Linked DNA regions of Homo sapiens. The protein of the gene in region 1 purifies or fractionates together with the protein of each later gene. This does not show direct contact. Each region holds a gene or a part of one and is shown in the gene's direction. Other genes may lie near its edges.

Region 1 (3,500 bases):
ATATCACATTGTACAATTTACATTATACTTTTTTCCTCTGCTCACCTCTATGTCTTGGGGATCATCCTGTGTTAGCACATAGAGGTTTACCTCAGTGTTTTTCATAGAAAAAAGATGCGTGAGCAAAAAAGAAACCCTCTATTCCCCATCTGTGCAGTTGCCTTCCCCAGCGTCAATCGCTGTGACTGGTGTCTTCTGTAAACTTCCAGAGTTATCGAGCATATATAAGCATATTACTGTATGCTAGTGTATTTCACACAGAGTTTTGTACCCTACAGTTTTCACTTGGATCATATATCTTAGAGCATTTTGTGTCATACGTTTAGAGCTGTCTCCTTTTTAATTGCTCTGTGAAATACCGCTGTATGGATGGATATTTAGGTAATTTCTCATTTTTTAGAGCCTATTGCAAAGAATATGTGAATGTATTTTTAAGATAAATTTCTAAAAATTGAATCGCTGGGCTGAATGGTTTGTATATTTAAATTTTAATAGTACTCACATTGCTCTCCACAAAGGTTTTTTATCAGTTTACATTCCCACCAGCAGTGGTGAGTACCCACCTCCCCTTATCAGCCAAAGCATTTTTAAAGGGTTTGCCACTGTGATAAGTTAAAAAAAAAAAAGATATTTTCTATTTCCTTGTATAACAGTGATATTGGCTATCAATTTACATGTTTTTTACATGTTTATTGGCTATTTGAGTTTCCCTTTTGGGAACAGACTGATTATTTCTTTTGCCTATTTTTCTACAGGGTTGTTTATTATTATTATTTTTTTTTATTTAAGACCGTGCCTGGCCTTTTTTTTTTGAGATGGAGTCTTGCTGTGTCACCCAGGCTGGAGGGCAGTGGCACAATCTTGGCTCACTGCAACCTCCTCCCTGGTTCAAGTGGTTCTCATGTTTCAGCTAGCTGGAATTACAGGCACATGCCACCATGCCCAGCTAATTTTTGTATTTTTAGTAGAGATGGGGTTTCAGCCTGTTGGCCAGGCTGGTCTTGAACCCCTGACCTAAAGTGATCTGTCCATCAAAGTGCTAGGATTACAGCGCTTACAGCTCACAGGCGTGAGCCACTGTGTCTGGCCCAGGTTGTTTATTCTTTTCTATTTGATTTGTAAGTATTCATTTTATATTTTGAATGTTAGTCCTTTTTAGATTACAGATTTTGCAGATACTTTGTGAATCTGAGGAGCCCTTTAAAAATATGTATGATTGAGACTTACCCACAGAAGTTCTCATTCGTAAGTGTGGTGGTTGTGGGGATTGGCATCTGTATTTTAAAATTTGATATACAATCAAATTTAAGAACTATGATAAGATTATGGAGAATGGAGGAATTTAGGACAGTAGCTAAGACCTCAAAAAGATGTGTGTTCAACTCTCAACTGTGTCATTTAACAGCTGTGGGGCCTTGGGCAGGTTATTAAATGTCCATAAGCTTTGTTTTCTTCATCTGAAAAATGGAAACAGTAGGATTTATGAGATAGTTAAATAAGATTGATTCTTGTGAAATGTTTAACACAGTACCTAGTTCATAGGAAAAGTTAAAAAATAAAAAATAGAGACTTATTTTTCTATTCAAGCAATCAAAATATTAAGACTATAAAATACATGTTATGTTATTTGTGAAAAATGTCCATTAAGGTTCAAAATTGGTAACCATTCTCGGTATCAGGTTCATGGAGGAATTGAAATCAATCAGTTGGGTCTTGCTGATGGAACATTCTTGAGTTGTAGTGTCATATCATTAGGAAGGACATTCTTGTCACAGAAGATCTACAAAATCTGTAAAATACGATAAAATGTACCAGATAGTAGCTGAAACTGAAGTGGAGTGTCTGCGTTGTGAAATAGTGTGTGTGAGTAGGATTTTGACCCCGTGGTTAGTGATTATACAACCGACCACCAGGTACCCAGATGGACTTTTCCATCATTGACCTGAAAGAGGCATAAATTTACAGACAGATTAAACAGTCTTCTACCTGTCTGTGAGGTCATGAGGTCATGGGAGGGAGAACACCAACAGAAGTGATTTGGAATGAGTTATTGAGTTGTGGTTGTGGTACCTATGACTTCTTTCTTTCTTTTTTTAGACGGAGTCTTGCTGTGTCTCCCAGGCTGGAGTGCAGTGGCATAATCTTGGCCCACTGCAACCTCCACCTCCTGGATTCAAGCGATTCTCATGCCTCAGCCTCCCAAGTAGCTGGAATTACAGGCACGCGCCACCACGCCTGGCTGATTTTTTTTTTGTATTTTTAGTAGAGATGGGGTTTCACCATGTTGGCCAGGCTGGTCTTGAACTCCTGACCTGAAGTGATCCACCCGCCTTGGCCTCCCAAAGTATTGGGATTACATGTGTGAGCCACCACGCCTGTCCCCTGTGACTTCTTCGGGTACAGTTCCCTCCTGTTTTACCTATGTGGCAAATGAGCCAGGAACGGTTCTCTGAATGTTTTATTAGGTTCATTCATCCAATTATTCATTTGTTCATTTACCATGCAGTCAGAATCTACAATCTTTTATTATTTGAAAAAAAATACAAAACTATATTACCATAATTTTATTTTAACTGTACATATCCATTTTTAAAGACTGGAAAGACCATGTTATTAATGTAATTTTTTTCTTTTTTTACCCCAAATATTCTACAATTAGCATGTATGACTTTAGTAGTAAAAAAGATAAGCTTGTGAAATCTATCAGCTCTCAGGCTAAGCATTACACCAAGAGAATCTTGCACGATCCTTCAATCATAAGAAATCACATGTTAGTGCAGAAGGTCCAGCGTGAAATCCTCTAAGTGGCCAAATCTAGGAGTTCTTCTCTGGCTTGGTTGGCTAAAGCAGTGATCTGTGTCACCCCCAGGGCCATCACTGTGCATGTCCCCATGCCCTCAGCAGGAGTCGTGGACATCCCCATTGTGGAGAAGGAGGCGCAAGGCCAGCAGCAACACCACAAGGTGAGCGAGCAGCCTCCCTGAGGCATGGGTTGCTGCTCTTCCTTGGGAATCATATCTTGATTTCTTTGGCTTCAGATGACATTGTCCCCGAGCTACCGCATGGACGATGGGAAAATGGTGAAAGTGCGGCGCAGCCGGAATGCGCAAGTTGCTGTAACTCAGTACCAGGTGCTCAGCAGCACTCTCTCCTCCGCCCTCGTGGAGCTCCAGCCCATCACTGGTGAGAGTGTCACTTTTCCGCAGTGGGATCACAAAACCCTGTGCCACCAGGTTTTGTCCAGGGCCTCGTTCTGAGCAGCTAGTAGTGTGGCTGACTTGTGTGAGAATGTGCTTCTGGTGCTGATCTGAGGCCGGGGACTCCCAGAGAGATGGTTGTGGCTAGCAGAAGAATACAAACAGGTTGAATGCCTCTATTTAAAACTGTGTAGAGTGGTTCCTCAAAACGATTAAACAGAATTATTGTAAGATCCAGCAGTTCCACTTCTGGGTATATACCCCAAAAATCAAATATTTGCACACATATTCATAGCAGCGTTA
Region 2 (3,500 bases), on another chromosome or scaffold:
AAAACGTTTTACTAGACCAGCAAGAACACTGTTACATGGCTTTTCTGCTCAGCCTCAGATATCCTCTGACAATTGCTTTCTCCAGTGGGGATTTAAGACTTACAGGACTTCCTCCTTATGGAATAGTTCCCAGTCTACTAGCTCAAGTAGTCAGGAGAATAATTCTGCCCAAAGCAGTCTGCTTCCTTCCATGAATGAACAGTCACAGAAGACACAAAATATATCCAGCTTTGATTCTGAGCTGTTTCTAGAAGGTAATTCTGAACTTTCAGAAAAGTCTCCCTTTCCCTACTTTGGCCATTTGAACAAGCTACCTGTTTACCTTCTGCTAGCCCATTTCAGGTAATATTTTGTGCCAAGAAAGAAAAAGAATAATACCAGTTCTATTGATGAACTTCTATCATGCCTTTATTTTACTGGTAAGAAAAAAAGTTTGTGGGCTAACGTGTAAGATTATTTTATAGCTACACATATAAAACATTTGCTTTTTAAATATTTTATTGTTTAGATTCTTAAAACAAAATTCTTCTAGTGGTAATTAGTTTTATTAGGGTATAATTATATCAAGTAAAATTCATCTTGTGGGATATATAGTTCTATGAATTTTGACATATGCATTTAGTGTGTAAGAACTACTGCAATCAACAAATAAAACAATTATATTAACTCCACAGAGTTCCCTCATGGTCGCTTTTTAGTCAATCCTCTCCTTCCTATGGGTCCTATTCTAGGAATATTTCGCTGGTAATGAAATGATATAAGGTTAAGTAGAATATGAAGGAAAGAGAGCTGGGGAGAGGGCAGGGAGGAGATGCTGGCTATAAATGATGAGAAAGGATAGTTAATGATGAGAAGCACAAAACAGAACAAAAGATCACAGACCTGATTCCTTAGCTTAAGGTAATGTGTAGTTCTAAGTGTCTTCCATGCTGCGTTTGATTTTAAAAAAACAAAAACAACTTCAGAATCAGGGCTGTACTAGAGAGTCACATCTCCTGTAGAGAGGACTGCAGGTTGTAGAAACAATCATAGAAGCCCTTTTAAAGATGTATTTGAGGGTAACTTGGAAGGGAGGGCATTGGGTCAAAACAAAGACTTTCGGGATATGATTACTTTAATCCATGCAATTCAGACTGTTGGCATATGTGTACTTTTAGCCAAGTTAACAGGCTATGGTAAACTCAATCTCTGTTTCAAAATTCACTTGAAAGTTAGGTGATTTTTAGCATTCTCACCTACTGATTAAGTGAAGGAAAGGCATTGTGTGCTTTGAAATTTACCAACAAATTTCTAATCTCAGAGGAACAGTAGTTAGTCTGTCTAAATAGTTGTAACCTTACCTCTTAAAAGGTGAAAAATTAGGGACTTGGATGTTTAATTCTAAAATGATCCCAAGATTTAACCACTGAAAGAAGCAAACAAGGGAAGAGCTGGTCTTTGCAGAAATAGTTTTAAGTGTGCATATTAGAGCACTAATTTGTTTCTCTCTTTCAAAGAACTGGATGAATTGCCTCCATTGTCTCCAATGCAGCCAATTTCAGAGGAAGAGGCTATTCAGATTATTGCAGACCCTCCATTGCCACCAGCTTCATTCACACTTCGAGACTATGTGGATCATTCTGAGACTCTGCAGAAGTTGGTTCTTCTAGGTAAGTTTGACTAAACTACAAGTACTTTTTGCATGTACTCTTCATTACTTTTTTTACTTTTTTAAATTAACAATTTAATCTATACTAAGTAGTATACAAACATAAGCAAAAGTCTAATAGCATAAAGGCTTCTAGTGAGAAACCGTATTCCCTGCCTCATCCTTGGTGATCTTGCATCCTATTCCCCAGATGCATCTACTTAACTTGTATCATTCTTTCTGTTTGTGTTCAACCTCCTCATTTTAAAATAGTTGTTTGTAGTGCTGTTGTTTGGTTCATCAGTTTTAGACATCATTTGATCTCTTGTATGTACACATGTACTTTTCCTGTATTCTTTTCAATTCTCCTAATATAAATTACAATTTTAGATAAATCATTAGTCAGTAGTTAAATTATGACTATAAATATTGCTATCTGCCCTAACAAGAAGTATGCTATCATTATTTACCTTCCTGTACAACTTTTCATTTTTCCGGCAGTAATAGTTGCCTTGTTCTTCATTTGATGAATTGTTTTGTTTGTTTGTTTGTTTCTGGGGTTAAACTTTTCCATACCTTCCAGTAGCCTCTCAGGACAGTTTTTCCCAGGTAACCCTATCAGATGATGTATTTCATTTCTCCAGAGTGGATTGTTCCCTGCTTGTCACACTACCCCGACCTCCTTCCTGAAGCCACTGTCCTCCTGATTTGAATGGTTTCTAGGCCTACTCTATAGCTGCCTTCACTTGTTGACCATTAGGTTGCACTTGGATCTGGATAGCTTAAGGGAGCCAGGGGATCTCCGTCCAAACTTTCATTTAGTCATCTTATTTTTAGTCTGGCATTTTATTACAAACTTTTGCTTTCCTCATTTCTCTGGGTTTGGTACTTCTCATACTTGATTTTCCCAGATAATGAATCTCCTTTCTCCTAGTGCATTGAGAGGAACTGGATTTGGGGGAGGTCGGGTCTCTCCATACCCAATACCCCAGTTTTTAGTCTGTACCTCACCTCTAATCTCTCAGATTTCTAGGGACTCCAATTTTGGAGACTTTTGAGTTTTTTGTGGTACTGATCACTTACCACTTGCCAGATTCTCATTTGCAGGCATTTCAGTGTCGTCTTTCTCCTCTCCGATAAGGCTGTTGCCATGCTTTCATCTGTTTTCAGATGTTTTCAGATATGTGGGGATATAATCTCGTTTCCTCAAAGAAGGATCTCATTTTTTGTTTGTCATTCCCCATATTTTTGGGAGGTGATTTTTAACAGGAGAGGAAAAAGAGAAAAATCTGTGCTCTGTTAGAAACTTTGGGGGTCATCCTTGATTTTTTTTTTTTTTTTTTTCTTCAGACTGGGTCTCACTCTGTCTCCCAGGCTGGAGTACAGTGGTACCATCTCAGCTCACTGCAACCTGCCTCCCAGGTTCAAGTGATTCTCCTGCCTCAGCCTCCCTGGTAGCTGAGATTACAAGCACGTGCCACCATGCCTGGCTATTTTTTGTATTTTTAGTAGAGACGAGGTTTCACCCTGTTGGCCAGGCTGATCTTGAACTCTTGGCCTCAAGGGATCTGTCCACCTCGGCCTCCCAAAGTACTGAGATTATAGGCATGAGCCACCGCACTCGGCCTATCCTTGATTCTTATTGCTTTTGTCCCCTTCCTCTTTACATCTAATTTAATAGCTTATCCTATGGATTCTACCCTCTCTATTTCTTTCAAATCCATCCACTTCTCTCATCCTACAGTCACTACCTTGTTTAGGTCCTCATTTGTCACTGAGTGGCTGCAGGAGCCTCCTATCTTGATAGTCTTCTCCTCAGCAGTATTGGCTCTGATATCTTTCCAGTGTTAGTGCTCTTTCTGAAATGCAGATC
Region 3 (3,500 bases), on another chromosome or scaffold:
ATCAGTTCATGCTTTGTGGGAACTGCTTTTCAGATTTCATCTGCTGCTTGCGGCTATGGATTCACACTGCTGTCCTCTAAGACTGCGGATGTTACGAAAGTCTGGGGGATGGGACTCAACAAAGATTCTCAGCTTGGATTTCACAGGAGCCGGAAAGATAAAAGTGAGCATCCCTACCTTGTCTCCTCTTTGCCGGGATTGGTCTGAGAAAGCTCTTTTTTTGTATTTTTTTTGAGACAGAGTCTCAGTCTGTTGCCAGGCTAGAGTGCAGTGGCGAGATCCTGGCTCACTGCAACCTCCACCTCCCGGGTTCAAGTGATTCTCCTGCCTCAGCCTCCCGAGTAGCTGGGATTACAGGCACATGCCACCATGCCTGCCTAATTTTTGCATTTTTAGTAGAGTTGGGGTTTCACTATGTTCACCAGGCTGGTCTCGAACTCCTGAGCTCAGGTGATCCACCCTCCTCAGCCTCCCAAAGTGCTGTGATTACAGGCATGAGGCACAGCGCCCAGCCCTCCCTTTGGTGTTCAAGAACATGGTTACATAAACAAAGAAATAGCAAAGAAATAGAGGAAGACTTAAAGGGATGTTGTTTGAAACCATCTGGGCTAGGTTATTTTTTAGCCTCTTTGGTAACAATGTTGAACCCTCAGGCAAAAGGCAAGCACCTGGCATTTGCAGATAAGTAAAGATGTTCTTTTGTGGCCTAAAAGAGATGACCTTTTTTTCCTGGCTTGGAGACAGACAGCGTGAAGTACTCTGCAGTGCCTAGAATATGTTTTGGAGGGAAAAAGCATTGAAATCGTTAACATGGAGGCTTTATTCCAAATGTTTGAGCCTTGGATTGTAAAAATGTTAGAAATAACTTATAATGGCATTTTAAAAAGTAGACATTAGCCTGGCTGGGCGTGGTGCCTCACGCCTGTAGTCCCAGCACTTTGGGAAGCCGAGGAGGGCAGCCTGTAATCCCAGCACTTTGGGAAGCCGAGGAGGGCAGATCACTTGAGGCCAGGAGTTCGAGACCAGCCTGGCCAACATGGTGAAACCCCGTCTCTACTAAAAATATAAAAAATTAGCCGGGCATGGTGGCACGCACCTGTATAGTCCCAGCTACTTCGGAGGCTGAGGCACAAGAATCTCTTGAACCTGGGAGGTGGAGGTTGCAGTGAGTCGAGATCATGCCACTACACTCCAGCTTGGGTGACAGAGTGAGACTGTCCTAAACAAACAAACAAACAAACAGAAAAGTAGACATTAGCTAAAAATTACTGTGAGAACAGTAAGAAATATTTCCTTGGCCAGGCACAGGGGCTCACGCCTGTAATCCCAGCACTTTGGGAGGCCGAGATGGGAGGGATTGCTTGAGGCCTGGAGTTCCAGACCACGCTGGGCAACATAGCGAGACTCTGTCTCTAAAAAAAAGAAATGAAAAACGAAAAAGAATTAGCTGAGCATGGTGGCATGCACCTATAATCCTAGTTACTCCAGAGGCTGAGGTAGGAGGATTGCTTGAGCCCAGGAGTTTGAGGCTGCAGTGAGCGGTGATTGCGCCACCGCACTCCAGCCTGGGCAACAGAGCAAGATCATGTCTCTTAAAAAAAAGAAAAAAGAAAGAGTTCCTAAAATAGAGAGGAAATGCCAGGCGCAGTGGCTCACGCCTGTAATCCCAGCACTTTGGGAGGCCGAGGCGGGTGGATCACGAGATCAGAAGTTTGAGACCAGCCTGACCAACATGGTGAAACCCCGTCTCTACTAAAAATGCAAAAATTAGCTGGGCATGGAGGCGCGCGCCTGTAATCCCAGCTATTCGGGAGGCTGGGGCAGGAGAATCGCTTGAACTGGGAGGCAGAGGTTGCAGTGAGCCGAGATCGCACCACTGCCCTCCAGCCTGGGCGACAGGGCAAGACTCCGTCTCAAAATAAATAAAAGATAAATAAATAAATAAATATAAAATAACATAGGAAATTACCCAGAAGTACATACTGGACAAACCTTTCATTTTTGTTTTTTCCTGTTCCCTTGTTCACAGACAAATACATTTTTACATACATAGCATATATTTTGTTTTCTGTCTTTTTTCATTTATTTTGTATCAGATATCTTTTTTGTTTGTTTGTTTGAGATGGAGTCTTGCTGTCGCCCAGGCTGGAGTGCAGTGGCATGATCTCAGCTCACTGCAACCTCCACCTCCTGGGTTCAGGTGATTCTGTTGCCTCGGCCTCCTGAGTAGCTGGTACTACAGGCGCCCGCCATCACACCTGGCTAATTTGGGGATTTTAGTAGAGACGGGGGTTTCACCACGTTGGCCAGGTTGGTGTTGAACTCCTGACCTCAAGTGGTCCACCTGCCTTGGCCTCCCAGAGTGCTGGGATTACAGGTGTGAGCCACCATGCCCGACCTATATATCAGATGTCTTTTATAAGTCAGTATAGAAGTCTTTATTAGCTGTAAGATGTTACATTACTTTTTTTTTTTTTTTTTTGAGTCAGAGTTTCACTCTCGTTGCCCAGGCTGGAGTGCAATGGCGTGATCTTGGCTGACCGCAGCCTCCTCCTCCTGGATTTAAGCAATTCGCTTGCCTCAGCTTTCCAGGTAGCTGGGATTTACAGGCATGTGCCACCATGCCTGGCTAATTTTGTATTTTTAGTAGAGATGGGGTTTCTCCACGTTGGTCAGGCTGGTCTCAAGCTCCCGACCTCAGGTGATCCACCTGCCTCGGCCTCCCAAAGTGGTGGGATTACAGGCGTGACCCACCGTGCCCGGCCCGCGTTACATTTTTTATACCTTTTATTCAGAGCAATTTTAGACTTACAGAAGTGTGCAGAGTAGTATGATGTGGCATCACCAGCTTCAGGCATCATCAACTCATGCCAGTCTCGTTTTCTTCATTTTTCCCACCTTCCCCCTCAATAAATTTGAAGCAAATTCCAACAGTTTAATTTTTTGGGGGGGTAAGGGGAGACAGGGTCTTGCCCTGTCACCCATGCTGGAGTGCAGTGTCATGATCACTGCTCACTGCAGCCTTAACCTCCCTGGCCCAAGTGATCCTCCCATCTCAGCCTCCAAAGTAGCTGGAAGTGATCCTCCCACCTCAGCCTCCCAAGTAGCTGGGACCAACAGGCATGCACCATGATGCTTGGCTGATTTTTGTATTTTTGTATTTTTTTTTTAAAACAGTGTCTCGCTCTGTCTCCCAGAAGGCTGGAGTGCAGTGGTGCAATCTTGGCTCACTGGCAACCTCCGCCTCCTGGGTTCAAGCAGTTCTCCTGCCTCAGCCTCCTAAGTAGCTGGGACTACAGGCGTCCACCATCACGTCTGGCTAATTTTGTATTTTTAGTAGAGACGGGGGTTTCACCTTGTTGGCCAGGTGGGTATCAAACTCCTGACCTCAAGTGATCCGCCTGCCTTGGCCTCCCAAAGCGCTGGGATTACAGGCATGAGCCACTGCCCGGCCAAGATTTCTTTAATAAGAAGACGAAGTATGCATTTTTTTTTTTTTT
Region 4 (3,500 bases), on another chromosome or scaffold:
AAGCTGATTGAGCTCGAGTTTATGTAACTATTCTTGTCCAATCTGTTCTTTTAACAATCTCTTATGGCCTGGCTTTTTGTGCTTTTTTTTTTTTTTTCTGTAATGGCAACCTTACTGGTGTAATTAGTAGTCCAAATATATTTGGATAGTTCTTATGCTTATGTACTAAGCAGCTAAAGAGGGAATATTACAGGATGGTTAAAAGTACAGACTCTGGAGATGAAATGCTTGTCATGGATCTCTGAATCTGTCACTTGCTAACTTTCTGATTGGGGGACAAATTAACTTCTGTCTTATTTTTCTTTTTATCATCTGTAAAATGTGGTATACCTTCTTCATAGGGTCATTGTAAAGGTTAAATGAGGAAGACAGTGCTTCCTGACTTTTTTCACATGGCACATATAGAAAATGATGAATTTTTACAGGTGGGTAAAAGAATGAGCTACAAGGAAATCCTACATAGACCTTGCATGACCGCCTCCAGGACTGGTGGAATCAGTAGTCCAGCTATACTTCCCGCTCGTTAATGGGCCACAAGTATATCATAGGATACATGTTGAAGAGCTGTGAATTCATTCATGAAAAATATTTTAAATACATAGCAGAAGTTTAGAAAGCCTGAGTCATTGTTTCATATAAGTAGAGAGGACACTGCAGTAACTAAAGAACTGCCATTCCTGCCAGGCAAGAAACTCAGCATCTTAAACTATAGACTGTCTGTCCTAGAGGTATTAAAGTTTTCATACTTCATAAAGGTGTTAAACATTTGCATCTGTCTTTCAGATATTGTTCCGGTATCTTACAACTTTTAGTCAACACGCGATTAGAGCTCAGTTAAGAGCTCATTAAGTCTTTGGGCTACATATTGCTTATTGATTGTGGTTATCATTTCACTACCTAATTCTCACTTTTGTCTATAATTAGGGTCGTCGGGCTGTTAAAGCGGGAGCTTATGCTGCTTGCCAGGAAGCAAAGGAAGATATAAAGGTAACTTTCTGAATTAGGGGGAAAAAGAGAAGTTAAAGATGAATGTACATTACAAGAGCCCAAGTAGAATAATTTGAGTGATGATGTCGTTGAAGTGGTTTGGGGCACCTAGATGCAGAGATTTGGAACTGGCAGGGTTATGTGATTTCTTCATTTGAAGTATAAATCCCTTAACTAAAAGCAAATTTTAAATGCTATTTTTTTGGTTCGTTCCCTTCATTTGTAGAGTCATTCAGAAAATGTCTCTCAACATCCACTTCATGTAGAAGTATTACACTCAGAGATTATGGCTCATCAGAAATTTGCTTTGCGTCTTGGTTCCTGGATGAACAAAATTATGAGCTATTCAAGTAAGCATACCTCCTGTTTTTCTTGTTTCTGATAAAATACTATGTGTTTTATAGCCACAAATTTTAAAATGTCATTGAGTATGAAATAAAGTTTTTCTTTTTTTTTTTTTTTTGGTTTATACACTTTGATTAATTTTCAGGGTTGCATTTCAAATGTATAATATCTTAGGATATTATTTCAAGTGCATAGTATCAAATAATATCTTTTTATTGGCTGTTGAGTCTTTGATGTTGACAGAATTATTCTTTGCCTCAAATGTGGGAGGATTAATATTATTCTTTTCACATGTTATAGGAAATGTACTTTTAGGAGAAATGTTATAAGAATAAAAATTATGGCTGAGTACAGGGGCTCATGTCTGTAATGCCAGCACTGTGAGAGGCTGAGGTGGAAGGATCGCTTGAGCCCAGGAGTTCAAGACCAACCTGGGCAACAGAGTGAGACTCATCTCTATTTAAAAAGAAAAAGAATACAAGTTGTGTAACTGTGTGACCTCTTTTGTTTGTAGGTGACTTTAGGCAGATCTTTTGCCAAGCATGCCTTAGAGAAGAACCTGACTCGGAGAATCCCTGTCTCATAAGCAGGTTAATGCTTTGGGATGCAAAGCTTTATAAAGGTAAGTAGACATTTGCTTATGCTGTTTGTCAGGAAGCAAAGGAAGATTATGACCTTAAAGTGGAGCTGTAATATCTTTTGTTTATTAAATTAGTTATTAAATCTGTAATCTTGATTGATAAGATACTACATGTGAATATAAAGTTTAACCAGTCAGTATGTATTCTTTGGTGTTAAAACCCAGGGATGTTGTCTTTTAATTATAGAGTCTTTTCATTTAGTGAGAGCCAGTCAAAAAGAGTATATATGTATGTGTCTATACATGTATCTATATATTCAGGTAGTAGTGCCATTATCGAGTAGCGAAAAAGATGCTATTTTCATTGTAAAAATCTAAATGAAGAACAAAACGTAAAAGGCTAAAAGCATGGAGAAGGAAAAGTACAGTGAAATAGAAAAAGAATGAAAAGGTTGGGAGAGAGTAAATTGAAGTGTAAGATGAAGTGGTGGGAGGGGTGCAGAAAAAGAGGGAAAAGGCAATATATGTGTGTATTTTAAATTCCAGTTATTAAATATTAATACAATAAATACTATTTGAGGTCTGTTTGCATGTGAAGTAATTTTATAATATTCTGCCACTCTAATAGCCAGAATGTTTTTGGTTTTTGCCTTGGTGATTCTCCTCATTCCCCCACCCTCCCCAAAATAATCTATAGGTGCCCGTAAGATCCTTCATGAATTGATCTTCAGCAGTTTTTTTATGGAGATGGAATACAAAAAACTCTTTGCTATGGAATTTGTGAAGGTAATTATTTATAAATTAGATATCAATAAATAGAAATAGGCAGTTTTTATAAATGAATTAATAGAAACAGGGATAATTATGAATCAAAAATTAAATGTTATGATTTATTTCTTTGTCAAAAGTTTGTTCTTGGCCCTGCGGGTTGGCTCACGCCTGTAATCCCAGCACTTTGGGAGGCTGAGGTGGGTGGATCATTTGAAGTCAGGAGCTCGAGACCAGCCTGGCCAACACGGTGAAACCCCGTCTCTACTACAAATACAAAAATTAGCCAGGCATGGTGGCAGGTGCCTGTAGTCCCAGCTACTCAGGAGGCTGAGGCAGGAAAATCACTTGAACCTGAGAGGCAGAGGTTGCAGTGAGCCAAGATCGCGCCACTGCCCTCTAGTCTGGGCAACAGAGTGAGACTCCCATCTCAAAAAAAAAAAAAAAGTTCGTTCTCATACGTTATATAAATATTTTCACAAATGTTATTTGCTAGTATAGAAACAGCATTCTTAGAGAAGAGATAGGTGGAAAATGACCCACTGACCCAGAGCAAAGGGAGGTTATCACATTCACATATGCATTCAGTCTTCCTAATCATTTATTTGCCTGTTAGTAAAATTACAATAAGAATAGAAGTGACTAATTGAAAAGTATAGCAGGAAAGAAGAACAGATGTGTATGCTAAAGTGGGGGGCAGGAATTAGGTGGCCAAGAGTTCTACTTAGTTTTTGGAAGCTAAAGCATAAGGCTAAAATTTACAGCTTTTTAATGTTTTATTAATCTATCGTGTATCTCTTACCTTACTGTATCTTTTTGT
Region 5 (2,265 bases), on another chromosome or scaffold:
GCTTGAGACCAACCTGGGCAACACGAGACCGTTTTTAAAAAAATAAAATAAATTGGCCAGGCGTGATGGCTCATGCCTATAATCCCAGCACTTTGGGAGGCCGAGGTGGGTGGATCACCTGAGGTCGGGAGTTCGAGACCAGCCTGACTAACATGGAGAAACCGCATCTCTACTAAAAATACAAAATTAGTCAGGTATGGTGGTACATGTCTGTAAGCTCAGCTACTTGGGAGGCTGAGGCAGGAGAATCGCTTGAACCCAGGAGGTGGAGGTTGCAGTGAGCTGAGATCGCGTCATTGCACTCCAGCCTGGGCAACAAGAGTGAAACTCTGTCTCAAAACATAAAAAATAAAATAATAATAATAATAAAATACATTTAAAAATAAAAAGAATTTGGCCAGGCGTGGTGGCTCATGCCTATAATCCCAGCACTTTGGGAGGCCGAGGCAGGCAGATCACCTGAGGTTAAGAGTTCAAGACCAGCCTGACCAACATGGTGAAGCCCTATCTCTACTAAAAATACAAAAATTAGCCAGGCATGGGGGTGTGCACGTGTAATCCCAGCTACTCAGGAGTCTGAGACAGGAGAATCACTTGAACCCAGGAGGCAGAGGTTGCAGTGAGCTGAGATTGCGCCACTGCCCTCCAGCCTGGGTGACAGTGAGACTCTGACTCAAAAAAAAGTAAGTAAATAAAAAGAATTTGATCAGAAACTTGAATGTAACAAATAGAGTATAGTAAATATAGAGTAGGTGTGGATTTTACTTTAAGGATCAAATCCTTAGTTTGAGAGCAGGACAGATGAGCATAGTTTGTCTTGTATTTGATGGTCTGGTAGTAACTGTCAGTATGGATCCATATAACTGAGTAACCTCTTCCATTGAGAACAATTGACAAGTACACAGGTGCTCAACAAATATTTGTAACATATTTGGGGAAAAAGACACTCAGACTGCCATATTTTGATGTTGTAAATAATTGCATTTTGGATAACTGTGATTTTGAAATAATTCCTTAATTTTTTTAGAAGTCAGTTTTCTGATTCAGCAAATTGGATACTAATACAGGACGTTTCAATGGTGAGGGAGAAAGATGGTTGTATTGGGTTTTAACCCTAGAATTATGACCTTGGGCAAGTCACATTTTCTTCTCTGCTCCCCATATACAAGCAGAATGGACTTGGCTGTACCCAGTGAATCTTTAAGGTTTCTTTTAAAAATCTTTGCTTCTACTTTGGGAGGCTGAGGCAGGAGGATCAGTTGAGGCCAGGAGTTCAAGACCAACTTGGGCAACATAGCAAGACCCTTTCTCTACAAAAACAGAAAAAATTAGTCAAATGGGCTGGTGCATACCTGTACTCCCAGCTACTCAGGAGGCTGAGGTGGCAGGATTGCTTGAGTACAGTTCAAGGTTGCAGTGAACTATGATTGTGTCATGGCATTCCAGCCTGGGCAACAGAGCAAACAAAAAAGTCTTTGCTTTGGAGTATGTTGAGTTGCTTGGAGACAAAAGTATTTAGAGTATAGGTGACCCATAGGTTACAATGACTTCACTTAGAAATTTTCAGCTTTATGATGGTGCAAAAGTGATGTGCATTCAGAAGAAACTGAGCATCAAGTACCCATGCAACCATTCTGTTTTTTACTTTCAGTGCAGTGTTCACTAACTTGATAAATAAAATAGAAAATAATAATAAAATGCAGTTTAACGTGTATGAGATACACAACACTTTATTATAAAATAATCTTTGTGTTGTTAGATGCTTTTGCTCAACTGTAGGCTAATGTAAGTGTTCTGATCGTGTTTTACGTAGGCTAGGCTAAGCTATGATGTTTGCTAGGTTAGGTGTATTAAATATATTTTTGACTTATGTATTTTCAACATAAGCTGGGTTTATTGGGATGTAACCCCATCGTAAGTTGAGGAACATCTATTCTATGAGTGGTGTACACAATATTACTTTCACACAGAGTGAAGACTAAAATATTTATGATGCCTATGTCTTTTTGGGGGAGAATTGTTAAATTTTGTTTGTTTGTTTTGTCCTCAACAGTCAACGACAACACAAACAGCAGAGTGGTCCTTTGGTCCTTCTTTGAAGCTCTTGTTCTAGTTGCCATGACATTGGGACAGATCTACTACCTGAAGAGATTTTTTGAAGTCCGGAGAGTTGTTTAAAAAGCCTCTTCCTGATGATCCCAACTCAGAATTCACTGTTTACCAAACACCTTGGTCATAATAATGTCATTAGTTTCTCCATTTTTA
Region 6 (3,500 bases), on another chromosome or scaffold:
TAAATATGATAGAAACATACAAAAAAATCTGTAGGGATCCAAGCTCTTATCTGCCCATCCCTCTTCATTCACACACAGTTCTGTGACTTTCACCTCTTTCTGAATGCATCTAGCTTATTTCTTGGCCATCTTTTCAACCGCTGTCTTTCCTATTAGTGCTACCCATCTCCCCTCAGAAGAGGCTTTCTCTCTGACCTCATTCCAAGATCAGTTTTCTTTTTCGGGTACTCCGCTATTCTGGCATAATAAAATAACAGTTGTTCTCAGCATAAAGTCATGAGAAGTGAAGAATGTGAGCATTCCTTTAAAAACATAAAATTTGTCTTATAACAGCCAGAGTATAGGTGAAGGCAGTAAGGATATAAATGTCTTTTTTTTTTCTTTTTTTCTCCCAGTAAACTTAGTATTTCCAAAGTGCCAGGAACAATGAAAAAACAAATTACACCTTCCACATTTTCGTTATATTTACAGATTTTATTTTAACAGTCTTGCCTTTCTCTTGGTGTTTTCTTTCTTGTATTTAAACTCCTATTTCTGTTTTTTAAATGCTGCTTTCTCTGGGAGATGATATGTGTAAGAAGAGCATTTACTATTTGGTATTATTTACACCGTTACTACTACTGGTAGAATAAATAATTATACTCAGATCAGAAATCAGCACTACACAGAAAACCCTTAAAATTGGTGCTTTCATGTCTGAAAATTTTCCTCTTCAAAAATGTAGCCATCCTTAAAGGGAACTGAGAGGTAACTGTGTATAATGTTGTATATTTTTGATTTATAAAGTAGCCTTGTATAGTGGAATATCTGCAGAGGCCAAGTAAAAGAAGTGAAGGACTAAGACAGGAATATCAAGGATTGTGGTCGGTGGAGAGCTCAACTTGGAAATCTCCAGAGAACAAGAATGCAGCAAGACTAAATAGTAATATCAATAACTGTTCTTGTTTTGTTTATTTTTGTTTTCAGAGTAGCTGTGCTATGTGTTTCCAGATCTGCTTATTGTTTGGGTTCAAGCCACCCCAGAGGATTCCTTGCTATGAAAATGCGGCATTTGAATGCAATGGGTTTTCATGTGATCTTGGTGAGAAAAAAATGCAAATGAAATATTCTTTAATTACTGATGTACATTCTAACAGCTGCCAGGAATCTTGTGGTTGAGACTGGTTACTAGGACTAGAGGAATTGTCAGCATTATTGGAATGAGTGCTTTAGTTACTGTTTTCTTTGAAAAAGAACATTGCTAGTACACGATTTGGGTTCTGCTCAGCTGATTACTGTCATTACTAGAGCTTTTACAAATGTTGTTCTGGTCAGCTTTAATCCTTTTTTGCTAAGAAGAAGAATGCAAATAATATATTTTCATATTTAAGATACACAAAACCATATTTAATTTCCAGGTTATCTTGAACAAGGGAAGGAAAGATGTTAAAGCTTTGTTTTCATGGCCTGTGTGAAGCTGTTACAGGATGTTTGTTGCCAGAAAAGGCTGGATGGTTTTAAGAAGATGGGTCTTTCTCTTCCCTCTTATGCTTCAATTTTATTTTGTACCCCACAGCTTCTCTTGAACAGCCTCTTCTGATGTTTCTAGGTAGTAGGAACCTTACAAATACATTTATATATATGTTGCTGTTGGAATCTATCTAAATGCCACTCATTTGGTCCTGCGCATAATGTAAGATGTAAACATTCCAAGTCTTCTATTATTATACTTTAGTATTGGAAATGGATTACGTGTGGACTATTGAGATTAAGATGACTCCTTTCTCTTAGTGGGCTACTATTTAAGACTTTGTTTTTTATATTGCTGATTATATATATTCTAAGGAAGATTTTCTCAAGAAAGCAGTTTTTGCACCATTTAGAGGACCTTTAAAATTTGTATAATTTTCACAGTTAAAGCTTTCTTAAACCCTAGCATGTAGTCTTATTATGCCTTTAAAATATGAGTAGTTATAAGGTCACATTTGCTTTCAAAAAGCTATTGTCCTCATGTTACTTTACTATGTTTGGATCTCTAAACTAGCTCTTTTGTTAGTATCGTCTCACAAACTGATTATTTTCCTCTTTCTTTGGTAAGGTCAATAACTGGGAGATGGACAAACTAGAGATGGAAGATGCAGTCACATTTTTGAAGACTAAAATCTATTCAGTAGAAGCTCTTCCTGTTGCTGCTGTAAATGTGCAAAGCACACAATAAAGTGAAAATCAACCTTTTCATATTAGGAGACATGCATTTGTAAAAATTAATAAAGATGACAAGTCAGTTGTCAATGGAATTGAGCTATCTGCTAAGACAAAAAATGTTACCTCAGTTCACTATTAAAATTAATTTTAGGAGTGGAAGAAATGTTGTTACTGCCATTTAAAAATATGCTGAGAAAATTCCAGAAGGGTTATTTTTCCAACCACACCTATTCCCTCTAGTGCCCAGATATTTGATTTGTGAGCTGTACGTTTCACCTTTTCATCTTTGATCTACTAAAAACTGGTTTCTTAGTTGTGAGGTGTCACAGGCAGGTTGATGTGGGTAGTAGTCCTTGTCTTTGGAATCTGAATATTTATACTCCTGCTCTAAGCTGTTCTAAGACTTGGGGTTATGCCTTTAAATCATTTTCAAGCATTGGCCAAATAATAATTGGACAAAGTTCTAAAGTTGTCAAGTGTGTAAGAATTAGTGAGGTAGCTGTTGAAAATGAGTGAGGATGGTATTTGTATTTGTAATAAGCACTGCAGGTAGAGATATTTCATGGGTTATAATAAGAGAAACACAGATGAGATGTAGATGGTAAGGAGTCTTACTGTTGTTGGGGTCCTTCCTTTCTCTTTCTTTTTTCCCCCTTACCCCTCCCACAATTTCATGAAGTCTTTTAAATTAAATATATAGCTGAATTGTGTTGTGAATCAGACCTGAGGACTATTTTTTCGATTATGTGTGTTCATTCTTTGTTCAAATATTTGTCCAAATTCAACTATTTTGTTCAATATGCCTGTCTACCTAGTATTTGGCTCGCTGGGGATATAGTGATGAATAGGCATGGTCTCTTGTGGAACTTACAGCATGGGTTCCATGCAAGTTGGTGTTATTCTGCCCCCAAGCACACAGACATGCAATTACTAGACATCTTAGTATGTGCCGGGCACTGCTAAGTATTCATTTGTGTGCTGCCTTTTCATGATCTGAACCCTTTGAGGTGTAGCTGCTATTATGATTCTCTCTGTGTCTTCACTTCCTCATCTCTAAAATCAGGATAGGTATTTGCCCAAGGCTACACAGAGTAGGGGAGGGCTGGAGTTTGAATGTGAGCTAACATAGGCTTATAAGAAAATACAAAAACTGGGCTGGGCACGGTGGCTCGTGCTTGTCATCCCAGCACTTGGGAGGCCGAGGTGGGCTGATCATGAGGTCAGGAGGTCAAGACAATCCTGGCCAACACGGTGAAACCCCATCTCTACTAAAATACAAAAAATTAGCCGGGCATGGTGGTGCATGCCTATAATCC
Region 7 (3,500 bases), on another chromosome or scaffold:
GAACTAATAAGCACAAAACATTTTGCTAAGTTTTCTGAAGAGACCAGCATGTTAAATCATTGGGGATATTTATTAAAGTTTGAAGGTCTGATGCAGTCTGATTGCAGTGAGGACTTAAATTTATGCTGTCATAGAGACTATTGACTAATCCTCAAATAAATATAATTAACTTCGATGTGTTTTTTTGAATGAAAATATATATAGTGTCATTCTTTATTTGTGCTGTGTGTATGCCCAACTAACAGCTGTGAAGTATGTACAAACTTTTCATTTATCCAATATGAGTGTTTTGGAATTTTAACCTAAACACTCCTATTTTTTTTTTTTTTTTTGAGATGGAGTCTCACTCTGTCGCCAGGGCTGGAGTGCAGTGGCGTGATCTTGGCTCACTGCAACCTCCGCCTCCCGAGTTCATGTGATTCTCCTGCTGCAGCCTCTTGAGTAGCTGGGATTACAGGCGCCCGCCACTATGCCCAGCTAAATTTTTGTATTTTTAGTAGAGATGGGGTTTCACCATGTTGGCCAGGCTGGTCTTGAACTCCTGACCTTGTGATTTGCCCGCCTTGGCCTCCCAGAGTGCTGGGATTACAGGCATGAGCCACCGTGCCCGGACACACACTCCTATTTTTAAACCTCACACTTTGAATTTAAAAAAGAAAAAAGGTTACCCTGCCGTAATTAACACACTACTTATTTTTTCAGGCATGTGGGCACATTCCATGACAGTACAGGATTATCAGGATCTCATAGACCGAGGATGGCGAAGGTAAAGCTTCCAGATACAAAGAGACTTCCTACTGTTACTCAGGTTCTTGAAAAATACAGCATGCCTTTGAAATGCTTTCCTGTTGGAAAGAGGTTTAAGAAAAATTTTTATTATATTCTTTTATGTAGTGATTTTTTGTCTCCTTTTTAAAAAACTTTGTTAGGAAAATGTCAAATATCTATAAAAGCAGAGAGTACATTAGAATGAACCTCAAGTACCTATCACTAAGCTTCAGCAGTTATTAACGTTCTGCCAATCATGTTTGATTCTCCTGCTCCACCTTTTAATATTTAACAGCAAATTACATCAGTAGGTTATTATGACATTTATCCTATCAATAGATAGGCAATAAGTATGTATCTCTAAGAGAGAGGTCTTTTTTTCTTTTTAACTTATCCACAATGCTGTATCACACCTTACAAAATTAATAAAAATTCTTTGATGTTACCTGTTACCTACTTTTTATTAGATTTTCCAGATTGTCTCAAAAATGTCTTCTTTAACAGTTTATTTGGATAAGGATTTCCTTAAAGTCCACACATGGCCTGTTTTGAGTAGTTATTTTTATGTGGATGATTTTTAAGTAACTCTTAGGTAAAGTTCCTTGTGTAAATATAAGTAATATTAAATACTGTACGCTAATACTTGCCAAAGACGTGGGATTGGGAGCACCAGCTGAAATATCACAACTTTCCTTAAACTTAATGAGATTCAAAAGGTAGACATAGGTCAGATTTTAAAGGACTTCACATGCCATGATAAGGAACTTTTTTTTTTAGAGACATGGTCTCGCTCTGTTGCCCAGGCTAGAGTCGCTCTCTTGCCCAGGCTAGAGTACAGTGCCATCATCATAGCTCACTGTAACCCCAAATTCCCACACTCAAGTGATCCTCTTGCCTCAGCCTCTGCAGTGGCTAGGACTACAGGTGTGCATCACAACACCTGGCTAATTTTTCAGTTTTTTGTAAGATCTTGGCTATGTTGCCCGTGCTGGTCTCGAACATCTGGTTGCAAGTGTTCTTCCAGCTTAGCTTTTCAAAGTGTTGGGATTATAGGTATGAACCACCATGCCTGGCCAGAACTTTTTAGAAGGCAGTCATGGAAGGATTTTATGGTAAGAGAGAAATGTGAAGGAATTTGTTTTAGAAAAGATTGTTCAGATGGCTGAGAGGTATTTGAGGGGGGGTCATAGAGGCAGGAAGATGAGTTCAAAGGTTATTGCGCTATCCAGATGTGCGATGATGAGGACTGTCACCTTAGTGGCAATGGTGATAGAGAAGAGGGGACAATTTAGGATAGGGTTTAAAATGAAGGAAAGCTTGCTAATAGGATATAGAGGTGAATTCCAGGGAGGAGTTTAAAATGACTCCCAGGTCTCTGACTTGAGAACAGAATGAACAGTTCTGTTAGTACCATAGACCTGGAATGCATGGAAAGAAGCGGGTTAGTTTTGGGGTACTCCGTGCTGGTGCATGTGGAATACCCAAGTGTGGTTGTCACAGGCATCACATACATGAGTCCCACAGCATCGTGGGCATTTCTCTCATTGCCCTTGTGGTATTGGGGATTGGTGGCAGGTGAAGGCAGAGCAGGGGTGGCAGATGCTGGTGAGAGGGGAACTGAGATGATTGGCCGTGGGGTACACAAGTAAAGCTTTAGGAAATAAAAGGCAGGGTTCTAAACTTTGCTACACGCACTTTGAAGATTATTTGGCTTATGAAGAGTAATTAAACCTACATGCATTTCTACAATGTTGATTAGATTTTTAACCTTAATTTAATGCTCCTGTGCTAGGCTGTTTTGGTGCAAGTGAAAAATATATAAGACATTAACAAACTATTTTTATAATTTTAGAAGTGGAAAATATGTGTACAAACCTGTCATGAATCAAACATGTTGTCCTCAGTACACAATAAGGTAAGAATTTTAATTAGTAGAAAGAGGATTTATAGTATGAAGATTGTGTATAATATTTTAGTAGTCTCTTGTGCTTTTTTAATGTTTATTTCCGCTCTAGGTAGATGTCCTTTAAAAGGAAAAGTAAATGAGTTATGTCTTTTCTTCATACTGATGCTGTATTTATGTGCTGATCAGTAGGTTTTAGTAATATTGTTTGATTGGTTCAGATATAAATATGTGAAAAAAATACCCTCTTAATTTAGCAATCTTGTCAATGAATGCCATGAAATATTGGGAAAATGTTGGTAAATATTCACATTACTTTTGGATATTAAATATTATAGGACTTAGCTTAGAATTTTCTGCATTCTGGTGTATTGCTTGACACAGTGCTTGTGTTCAAGCAATGCTACAGGCTCCTATAAATTACTTGGTAGGTTCACGTTCTCATGTTGTGGGATTCAGGAGGACAAGAGAGACCTCGGGTTAAAACAGGAGAAACTTTATTGAGTGCACTTAGGCCCAGCTGACTCAACGTCTAAAAGACTGGGCCCGGAACAAAGACTTTTATACACAGTTCACAGAAGGGGGTGGGCTAGCTTGAAGCAAGCTTACAGTGGCGTGAAAGCAGGGATACAGAGGCAGGACAAACTCAGGATTGCACATGACCGTTGCCAAGCAACCCAGATGTCCGTTATCTAGGTTTGCCTGGGCTTATCCCATAATCTTCACTATGGTGCCCAGGCAGCTGCAGTTCAGGCCTACTCAGGCTTCTCATGACATTCATTGTACTTCTCAGATAAAACAATACTTGAAGTCACTAGTTACAGAGAAC

Evidence for each region.
Region 2: the proteins of RPUSD4 (region 1) and MTERF3 purify together in Homo sapiens (affinity purification with mass spectrometry; one large-scale study listed by BioGRID and IntAct). This does not show direct contact.
Region 3: the proteins of RPUSD4 (region 1) and RCC1L purify together in Homo sapiens (affinity purification with mass spectrometry; 2 studies listed by BioGRID and IntAct, with this or other methods). This does not show direct contact.
Region 4: the proteins of RPUSD4 (region 1) and UBR1 purify together in Homo sapiens (affinity purification with mass spectrometry; one large-scale study listed by BioGRID and IntAct). This does not show direct contact.
Region 5: the proteins of RPUSD4 (region 1) and TMED2 purify together in Homo sapiens (co-immunoprecipitation; one large-scale study listed by IntAct). This does not show direct contact.
Region 6: the proteins of RPUSD4 (region 1) and FASTKD2 purify together in Homo sapiens (affinity purification with mass spectrometry; 2 studies listed by BioGRID and IntAct, with this or other methods). This does not show direct contact.
Region 7: the proteins of RPUSD4 (region 1) and ATE1 purify together in Homo sapiens (affinity purification with mass spectrometry; one large-scale study listed by BioGRID and IntAct). This does not show direct contact.

Annotation. Positions count from the first base shown.
Region 1 is NC_000011.10:126,205,151-126,208,650, reverse strand, and holds part of RPUSD4 (pseudouridylate synthase RPUSD4, mitochondrial), read left to right. Parts: intron 1-2,869; coding exon 2,870-2,963; intron 2,964-3,038; coding exon 3,039-3,183; intron 3,184-3,500. UniProt on the Homo sapiens protein: Catalyzes uridine to pseudouridine isomerization (pseudouridylation) of different mitochondrial RNA substrates. Acts on position 1397 in 16S mitochondrial ribosomal RNA (16S mt-rRNA).
Region 2 is NC_000008.11:96,255,111-96,258,610, reverse strand, and holds part of MTERF3 (transcription termination factor 3, mitochondrial isoform 1 precursor), read left to right. Parts: coding exon 1-254; exon of another isoform or gene 255-389; coding exon of another isoform or gene 390-419; intron 420-1,496; coding exon 1,497-1,649; intron 1,650-3,500.
Region 3 is NC_000007.14:75,067,303-75,070,802, reverse strand, and holds part of RCC1L (RCC1-like G exchanging factor-like protein), read left to right. Parts: intron 1-33; coding exon 34-163; intron 164-3,500. UniProt on the Homo sapiens protein: Guanine nucleotide exchange factor (GEF) for mitochondrial dynamin-related GTPase OPA1. Activates OPA1, by exchanging bound GDP for free GTP, and drives OPA1 and MFN1-dependent mitochondrial fusion. Plays an essential role in mitochondrial ribosome biogenesis.
Region 4 is NC_000015.10:43,057,539-43,061,038, reverse strand, and holds part of UBR1 (E3 ubiquitin-protein ligase UBR1), read left to right. Parts: intron 1-924; coding exon 925-987; intron 988-1,213; coding exon 1,214-1,337; intron 1,338-1,846; coding exon 1,847-1,954; intron 1,955-2,609; coding exon 2,610-2,698; intron 2,699-3,500. UniProt on the Homo sapiens protein: E3 ubiquitin-protein ligase which is a component of the N-end rule pathway. Recognizes and binds proteins bearing specific N-terminal residues that are destabilizing according to the N-end rule, leading to their ubiquitination and subsequent degradation.
Region 5 is NC_000012.12:123,594,552-123,596,816, forward strand, and holds part of TMED2 (transmembrane emp24 domain-containing protein 2 isoform 1 precursor), read left to right. Parts: intron 1-2,053; coding exon 2,054-2,178; 3' UTR 2,179-2,265. UniProt on the Homo sapiens protein: Involved in vesicular protein trafficking. Mainly functions in the early secretory pathway but also in post-Golgi membranes.
Region 6 is NC_000002.12:206,789,606-206,793,105, forward strand, and holds part of FASTKD2 (FAST kinase domain-containing protein 2, mitochondrial), read left to right. Parts: intron 1-966; coding exon 967-1,081; intron 1,082-2,077; coding exon 2,078-2,197; 3' UTR 2,198-3,500. UniProt on the Homo sapiens protein: Plays an important role in assembly of the mitochondrial large ribosomal subunit.
Region 7 is NC_000010.11:121,921,532-121,925,031, reverse strand, and holds part of ATE1 (arginyl-tRNA--protein transferase 1), read left to right. Parts: intron 1-702; coding exon 703-766; intron 767-2,620; coding exon 2,621-2,683; intron 2,684-3,500. UniProt on the Homo sapiens protein: Involved in the post-translational conjugation of arginine to the N-terminal aspartate or glutamate of a protein. This arginylation is required for degradation of the protein via the ubiquitin pathway. Does not arginylate cysteine residues.